Linked DNA regions of Homo sapiens: region 2 is reported to be linked to region 1. The links are microRNA targets in miRTarBase. Many come from high-throughput screens and were not tested one by one. Region 1 holds a microRNA gene; the other region holds the end of a gene's coding sequence.
The links. The annotated mature microRNA hsa-miR-3181 reads AUCGGGCCCUCGGCGCCGG and lies in region 1 at 2,258-2,276, opposite strand. An mRNA with a match to its seed (bases 2 to 7 or 8) in the 3' UTR can be bound and repressed. Matches are read on the target gene's strand: a 7mer-m8 pairs with bases 2 to 8, a 7mer-A1 pairs with bases 2 to 7 and ends in A, and an 8mer does both.

Region 2: the mRNA of PHACTR3 is a reported target of hsa-miR-3181. The part of its 3' UTR that is shown has no 7-base or 8-base seed match.

What each region holds. Positions count from the first base shown.
Region 1 is chr16:50,740,523-50,744,588 of GRCh38, reverse strand. It overlaps MIR3181 (microRNA 3181), which reads right to left and starts at 2,284; the gene lies at 2,212-2,284. CYLD (CYLD lysine 63 deubiquitinase) reads right to left here and starts at 2,503. Exons shown (of 19, transcript NM_001378743.1): 1 at 2,465-2,503; 2 at 1,748-1,827. It overlaps CYLD-AS1 (CYLD antisense RNA 1), which reads left to right and starts at 1,842. Exons shown (of 7, transcript NR_184279.1): 1 at 1,842-1,918; 2 at 3,185-3,261; 3 at 3,795-3,909. RefSeq lists an enhancer at 1,749-1,848 and a silencer at 2,089-2,688.
Region 2 is chr20:59,846,589-59,850,651 of GRCh38, forward strand. PHACTR3 (phosphatase and actin regulator 3) reads left to right here. Exons shown (of 13, transcript NM_080672.5): 13 at 527-1,123. The coding sequence ends at 542. Among named protein-coding and RNA genes, the nearest start is that of SYCP2, 85 kb to the right of the region's middle.

The DNA.
Region 1 (4,066 bases):
CAATTCAAGAGCTTTTTGCATCTCCAAAGATATCCTGCTTGTTCTAAAAACCACAGGAAGCTATTTAAATTAGAATAAAACTTACAATACTTAATTCTGCCCCTAATTATAAATGGCAAAGAGGTAGGAAGGTCAGCTTGAACACCAAAGAAAGAAGACATGTGGGCCTTTTTCCAAAAGCTTCTGGATAGCTAGAATGATCATCCTTTTAAAAGAGAACATCTCTCACTAAAAGACAAAGTTGTTATATTTCTAAACAGCTAAAGAATAGAGATACAGAGATTCCGTGGCCAGAAAAAAGACTGAGTCCGTTTTAATTTTCCTCAATGACTAATTTGTGTCACAAGTACACAGTCCCTAATACAAGTGGGATTTATAAGGTTAAAAAAAAAAAAGAAAAGAAGAGCCTCTCACATCTGCATATTCCCACTGGAACAAGGAATACTGCTGCCTCTCTAGTGTTAAACCTAGCCACTCCACTGCCAAACTGTGAATTCCCCAAGTCCTTCATTTTTATATTATCCAGTGCCCACACGAGAGCCTGGCATATGCTAGGCACTGAATACAGAGAAATGAATGAAAGACTCAAGTGGTAACAGTGAAAACAAAATTGCATTTCCTCCTCCTGTTTAAGGGATTAAACCAAGAGAAAGAGAAGAGAAAAAGACTCAGGAATTGGGAGTATTTAATGAATTTTGCCTAAAACTTCAGTAATTCTCTAGATAAAATGAAATCATGCTAAACCACTTCATTGTTATACATATAAGAAGAAACAAATACGGAAAATTTCACAATTACGAAACCAAGTTGTTTTGAGGTTTATTTGATACTAGCTTCCTACAGCCTCAACTAGCATGTATGATGCTTATAAATTCTGTACAACCAATGAAAAAAAAACTAATTTAAATCATAGTGTGAAAATCAGGAACAAAATACTAATAGTTTGATAAACAACATAACTATTCCTTTCTCTCTCCCTGTGTTGGAGACTTCCTTAAATCAAACAAAACCACAGTTTAGGTGTGCCAGACTATAAAAATCATTGCTGCTTAATGTTAGTTGTGCTTTATATAACAAGCCTTATCTGCTTCTCACAAAAGTTACCACCCAGAGGAAGGTTTATTTGCAAGAATACTATACAATTTTGCAGCAGAATATTAGAGAATGTTCTGGGTGTTACTTCAATAAGAATTTCCAGCAAATCATTTTCTCCTAATACTGTTCTAGTTCAAATCCACCTACTGCTCAGTGGGGAATGGGAGGCTAAATTCTTAAGGCCATTCAGTCTACTTGGGGCGTGAGGGGGTGTGTAGAAAGCCAACAATCAAACGAACACCCTCTCAAGGCCTGGGTGCTTCTCTGAGAGCCAATGATTGCAAAATGAACAATCTTATTAAGATCCCTAATTAGCCCGAATTCAAAAGCAAGGTAGGCATGCTCCTTAGCTGAGCTAAGGATAAAACTTTCCAGGAAAAATTGAGGAGAAGAAGGTGGCAGGGATGATGGGGGCTGGGAGACTGCAAGGCCACAGGCTTGGTGGCTGGAAGATGACAACTATCCTAAAACATTCAAATGCCAAGGGGTGGAAGAGAAACGATGCCAAGTACATGAATAACCGGCAGCTGACCCAGCTGAGTACCAAACTCAACACCATCTCCTGAAGATTTCATGACTTCGCCCCCGCCCCCCATTCGCCCCCCACCCCCCTCGATTGTTAACATGAAAGAAAAACATAAAGAAAGAATACCTGTCACAGCAGGGCGCACCTTTCAACTAAGGAACTCCGGGTGGCTGTGTAGAACCATCCTCACCCTAGAAAGGGGGAAACTGAAAGAAAAAGCAGAACACGCCATTAACAAGGCCAGAACCCCGACTGCCATTCCTGGACGGGAGCCACCAACACCCGCAAAATCGATCGGTACGTACGCCCCGCGGCGCGGTCGGTAGGAATCACAGCCCCGGGCTCCTGAGGCCAACCGTGGCCGTCGGGGCCCGCCAGCGGCCTGTGCCTCAGTCTCCCAATCTGTAAATGGGGTGGGGGGCGGGAGGGGGACAGCGTCCCGCGCGGCTCCCGCCCCAAGTCCTCTCTCCTCTGGGGGTCCCGATGGTGGCGACCCCGCACGCTCCCCGGACTCGCAGCCCTCCCGGGAAGCCTCGGGGGATGGGGAAGCCCCGGTGGGGGGGGGAAACCCGGGCTGACGTCAGCGGGCTCGGCAACCCGCGGGCCCGGCCGGCTCGGGCCCGGGCAACTAACGGGCCGGCGCCGAGGGCCCGATGGTCGCCGCGGCGGCTCCGGACGCCCTGAGGCCAGGCGGCTGCGCCGAGGGGATCCGGCCGCCCGCCGGCCGCCAGCCGCCCGCTCATTCACTAACCTCGGGCGGCGGGGCGTCGCCCCTCGCCCCGGCTCCCCAGCCCGCGTCCCGGGCCGGCCCCGGCTCCCCACACCCACCGCCCTAGTATTTACCTCCGACGCGCGGCCCCCGCGCAGCCAAACCTGCTACCTGGGCCCGCCCCCACCTGCCCCGCCTCCGAACCGCACAGGGAAGAGGGAGGGAGCGGGGGCGGAGGGGGCAGCCGCCGCGCTAGCCAATCGTAGGCCGAGCTGCGCTCCTGAGCGGGCCGTGATTGGGCCTCCCTGTGACAGACCTTCCTCCAATGGCTGCCAGCCCGGCGCCGGCCGAAGGGACTTTCCGCTCTGTCAAGCTCGGTGGAACCAAAGGGAAAGCGAAGGGGCGGGGCAGAGAAGAGCGGCGGATGGAGGCGGGAAGCTCAAGCTGATTGGGCGAAAGGCTGTGGGTGCCGCGTCACCATTGGCTGATGCTGGAGCCGGGGCGGGGCGCTGCGCTGCCACCAGCTCCGCCTCCCGTGCTCCCGCCTCAGCTGTCAAAACTGTAGACGCTTAGGTTTGGGCTGGGTTAAGAGTCCAGATGAAGGTTGAAATAGGATTCCAGGATGCCGTGAGAGAGCAAAGCTTTAGAATCAGACCTCAGTTTGAATCTTTGGCGCTTTCATTCAGTGGCTGCGTGACCTGAGGAAGTCACAACCACGCTGAGCCTCAATGTCCTCATCTGTAAAATGGAGATCATAGTATCGGTTGTCTTACAGGATTGTGGCAAAATACCGAGCTAAAGTTCCTGGCACGCAGTACCAGCTCAGGAAAGGTTCATCTCTTCCTCCTCCGCAGATTCAGCCTGGGACGCTTGCTGTTTCCGAACCTCTGTTGCCACCTATCCCAGTTTGGAGGGAATTTTCCCAAGGATGGTGAAGAAGGGATTTCCACACGCCGCCTCACTCAGCCCCGCACCCCTGGCCACCAGCCAGGACTTAGGGTGTAGTTAAGGATCTTTCAATTAGAAGGGAGGCTTCTGATTCCCAAAAGCACTCAAAATATTTAAGGAAGTGCTTTTTATAATCAGTCCTAGAGCCTTGCTGCACTGGATACTCCTGTTAATTAATTTCTTCTCCTTTGACATTTTAAGTGCTAATTATAGGAGAAGGTGATTAACACTGAGAAAGGAGGAGGGGTGTGTGTGTGTGTGTGTGTGTGTGTGTGTGTGTTTTTAATCATGACACAAATTTCCCCCAGTGGAAAGTGACATGTTTCTGGAGATCCAGGGAATTTAAACCAATGAATACATAAAAACAGTCACATGAGTGATGACTAACAGTAGCAGTAGACAGGCCACCACTCTTCCTTGCCATAGTCATCCAAAATGAAATGAGCATCTTTTGAAAACCTAAGCCTCATTCTACTCCTGTCCCTCTTTTGTCACTCCTATCTTCCTGTTTTCCAGGCTTCATGACCACACTGCTGTAGGAAGCCATAAGTTGGAAATCAACGGGCCTGGCTTGAAGTGTGGCCTTAGGCAACACCGTTCTCATCTACATCTGGATTCTCCAACAAAGCTGGTAGGACTCAGAGGTCACAGTCCAACTGTCTGGAAGAAAATTTCAGCTGAAATTTGTTTTTGCCTAACCCATACGATAAGGAGGAAGGAGAAAAGAATGTGAAGGAGAGAGATTTGGGGTCCTTTTAGGCAAGGCAAACATTCTCATGTTACCACTG
Region 2 (4,063 bases), not on the chromosome of region 1:
AATGTTTAGTAAAGATGTTTATTGTCCTAAGTTGATAGCTTTCTAAAATAATGACTCTAATACTTAAAATGTGGTATAAAGACCCTAAAATTATTTCAACAATTCAAGAGTCAGAACGGTATTTTTGGTTATGAGATTTTAAGAGTTTTAAAATTACTATGAACATATTACTCTACAAAAAGTCATAACTCTACTATAATTTTCAATAATTTATTAACAAATTCATCATTTCTACTGATTTAGCAAAGCCCTGGCCTTTCTGTGTACTTCAAGGGCTTTTAACTCACAGGTTTAAAACTAAGTTCTAGATAGTCCTAAGAATTCAGCATATAACAGGGGCCTGAGAGTGGGGAGCCCTCTGAGACTCTACCCTATTTTAACCAGAGTAGCTCCATCCTCATGTTTTACATATGGGACTTCTGAGAATCTTTTTAATAGCAGCAAATTTATTTGTATAAGGTTTTTGGCTATTTTAACTGCTAGAAATGAATAACCTTAAATTCTTTGTCTTTTTTATAATCTCTAGATTCCACAGGCCATAGAGATTTTCTTCTGAGAAGAATTTGTGTTTAATTTTTTGATACCAACACTGAACATTCATCAGGGAACTTTCCTGAAGTTCAGCTCAAGACTACCCTACCTGCTGTGTTTGTGAGAAGAGTAGGATCACACACACAGGTGCAATCTTGACCACACTTACCTGCAAGAGGAGTAACCAGAGGACACACTTCCTTCCTTCTTTGGTGTCTGAGGAGTGTGAACTGTTGGGGTCAGTTAAGACCCAACATAACTCTATCAGAAGAAAACTGTTGTTTGCCTTTCAACCTTGTTTTACAGTTCTGCAGTGTAATGGAGGACGGGCAACGTGCATGTGCAGGCTCACCACTCCCAGGCCTCTGACATGAGGGACATGTGACAGTGTCATTCAGTATTATGTTCAAAAGACATTTTTATCCTGATCATAATTAATTTGAAAACTCTTTAAGTTCATGTTATACAAGATGATTTACTGTATTATACTTTTCCTTTTTTATATAATGTCTAACAAAAAATACAGCTGCAACATTTTGATTCCTGTTAATTTTGTTCTTTAATTAAATGACTACTTATTGCAGGAAATTAACCCAGGCTTTACATTTTCTTGTGGTTGGGATGAGTGGTACTTTAGAACAGGGATCTGTGAAACAAGTCAATTTTTACTTGTGAACGATCAGAATCCAAACACATGAATGAGAATTCCAACTTTTTATGTGTTTGGTTTGTGCCTTAGAAAATCAAATTGAGTGCCTTTAACCAAGAAATAAGCAATAATTTGTTGAAAAATTCTATCAAAATGAAAAGTATGCCTCTTTAGAGTATTTTTAAGCTCACCTCTGCAAACACTGTTAAAGAAAGGAAATTTACCCCAGCACAAAGGTGAAAATCTTGGCACAAAGGGGGAAACTAACAATACATGTTCCCTGAAAAATATTTTTAATTGGCTTTCAAATAAGTGTCCTTACAGAGATGAGCCTTCCCTCCTCCTTCCCTCCTGGTATACTGGTGAGGCAGGAAGCACAGTAACTTGGAGCATGACTTTCAGAGCTTGCAGAACTTGTGCACAAATCCAAGCTCTGTGCTATTCAACAAGTTACTTGTTTTTTCTATAGTATGGTCATATCTCTCTCACACAACATTGCTGTAGTATCTAAATAAGACAAAGTAGCTAAAGTGCTGGCACATTGCTGAGGACGTTCTGGGAATCCAATAAATGTTAGCTACTGATATGGTTGCCAGGTAGCACCTGGAGCAACTGAGTGTCCTCTATGACTTCTTGCCACATATGCTACCTCATTGCTTTCCACTATTTTTCCTTTTCTACTTAAGACTGCTACTGGGTCAGACGCCCACAGAAACTGCCAAGTCTTTATGTTAGCACTTTGTCCAAAGTGACTTATGATCAGTCCTAGAGACTAGCAAAACACACTATTCATTGAATTATAGTTTTTTTTAATAAGAAATTGTTATGGTAGAAAAATTCCAGCTCTACCTCTTAGCTGCTCTGTAACCTTCTGTGAATCAGTTGACTTCTCTGAGCCTCAATTTGTTTGTGAAATGTATCTAAATCCTTTCTAATTAGAAGTCAGTTAAATTTAAAGGATTTGATATATATATATATATATACATTATATATTTTCTGTTATTCATAACCCATTATTTGTAGCCAAAACTTTACCTCTTTTCTATCTTAAGCAACATATTAGAAGCTCTCTGTATTTAATATTCAATTTAAAATATTAATGGGAGCCCAAATTATGTAAAACTAAGATTTCAATTTCCCTCACATAGAAATATTAATATATTTACTATGAAACAGAAAAGGAAAAGGTGCTACTGTTTAGAAACCACCTTGGCCCCCAAAGTACAAAAGATCAGTACTGCTTAACAAAAGAACCAGGCAGATCCTATAGTTAGAAATGACCTGGTTAGATGGGACATATATTTAGTTTTTTCCCCAAGTCCCATAACTAGTGGATAATAAAACTAAAAAGGTAAAGTGCAGGATAACCAAAGGAGGGTTTGGACTGGTTCAGACTCAAAGGTTCTAAGATATCCTAAAACCAGCAGACATATTCACTTAAATCAAAATTTGTGGCAATAGTATCTAACTTCTACCATTGTGTTTTTATTATGCACAAACTATTACTCTATACTTACATATTTCATGTTCTTATCAGGTATTATAAGGGTTAAGAGATAAACTAAAATTGAATCAAGTATATTTACTCTCCACCTGCACATCACAACTATCAAGTTAGAGGAATAAAATTAAAAAGCAATTCACAAGTCATATTACACTGATGACATACATGTATATGTACACGCATTTGCATATATTTATAATTTGAAGAGAAAGTTTATATACTTAACAGCCAACAGATTTAGAAAAAACTATTTGTCCTACTGAATAACAGTATATATGAATTATCAGAATTCTTCATTACTAGTATTCAATAATGAGCTTTTTATGCAATAAATTTACAAATCATTTGCCCCTATTTTCAGAAAAAATTATTAAAGCAACCATGAATATTTAAATCATAAGTTCTGTTTTTAAGGAGTTCAAAACATTTTTACAAGCATGTTAGTAATTTAGTGAGAGGAAATTAAATATCTTCTAGAAACATCTAGTAACTTTTAAGCTAATGTAATAGAGGAAATACTACATTATATGACTTTGTAAAAAGTATTTCTAAAAAAATTTAAAGGGGGCTGGGCATGGTGGCTCATGCCTGTAATCCCAGCACTTTGGGAGGCCGAGATGAGTGGATTGCTTTAGTCCAGGAGTTCGACACCAGCCTGGGCAACATAGCGAAACTCCATCTCTACAAAACAAAAAATTAGCTGGGCATGGTGGTATGCGCCTGTAGTCCCAGCTACTAGGGAGGCTGAGGTGGCAGGATCACTTGAGCCCGGGAGGTTAAGGCCATAGTGAGCCGTGATTGCACCACTGCACTCCAACCAGGGCAACAGAGCAAGACCCTGTCTCAAAAAATATAAAAATAAAATAAAGAGACTTTGAAATCATATCACCTAAGTAATTTTTTGACAATTGAAATGGTGGTGGGAGCGGGGAGGAAGAACCTAACATCAAGACATCCACCTTGTGGAAAGATATGGTAATTACAGGCCTACATTTATTATACATTGGAAGTAAAGTCAAAGTTTTTAGCTATGTACCTACAGTCCTTCAACAACAAATTCAAGCTCAGAAATGCAAAATCCTAATCGTACTATTAAAACTGCTATTACTATATGCTTCCGATACCCATTTGTCTAGTTTTTTTCCAGAGACCTTTTTCTCCATTTTTCATATGAAAACATCTCAGAAGATATTCGTAAGCAAGTGAACATATGAAACTGAATATATGAAAAATATTTTCAAAAAGTAGATTTCTATAAATCCCATTTGCTTATTTAGCTGCAAATTTATTTACAGTGATGATACTAGGAACATACTACTAGTTCAAACAAAAAATGTTTGTTCGAATGAACAACAGAAAGTACTGGTTAGCAGTTCCAT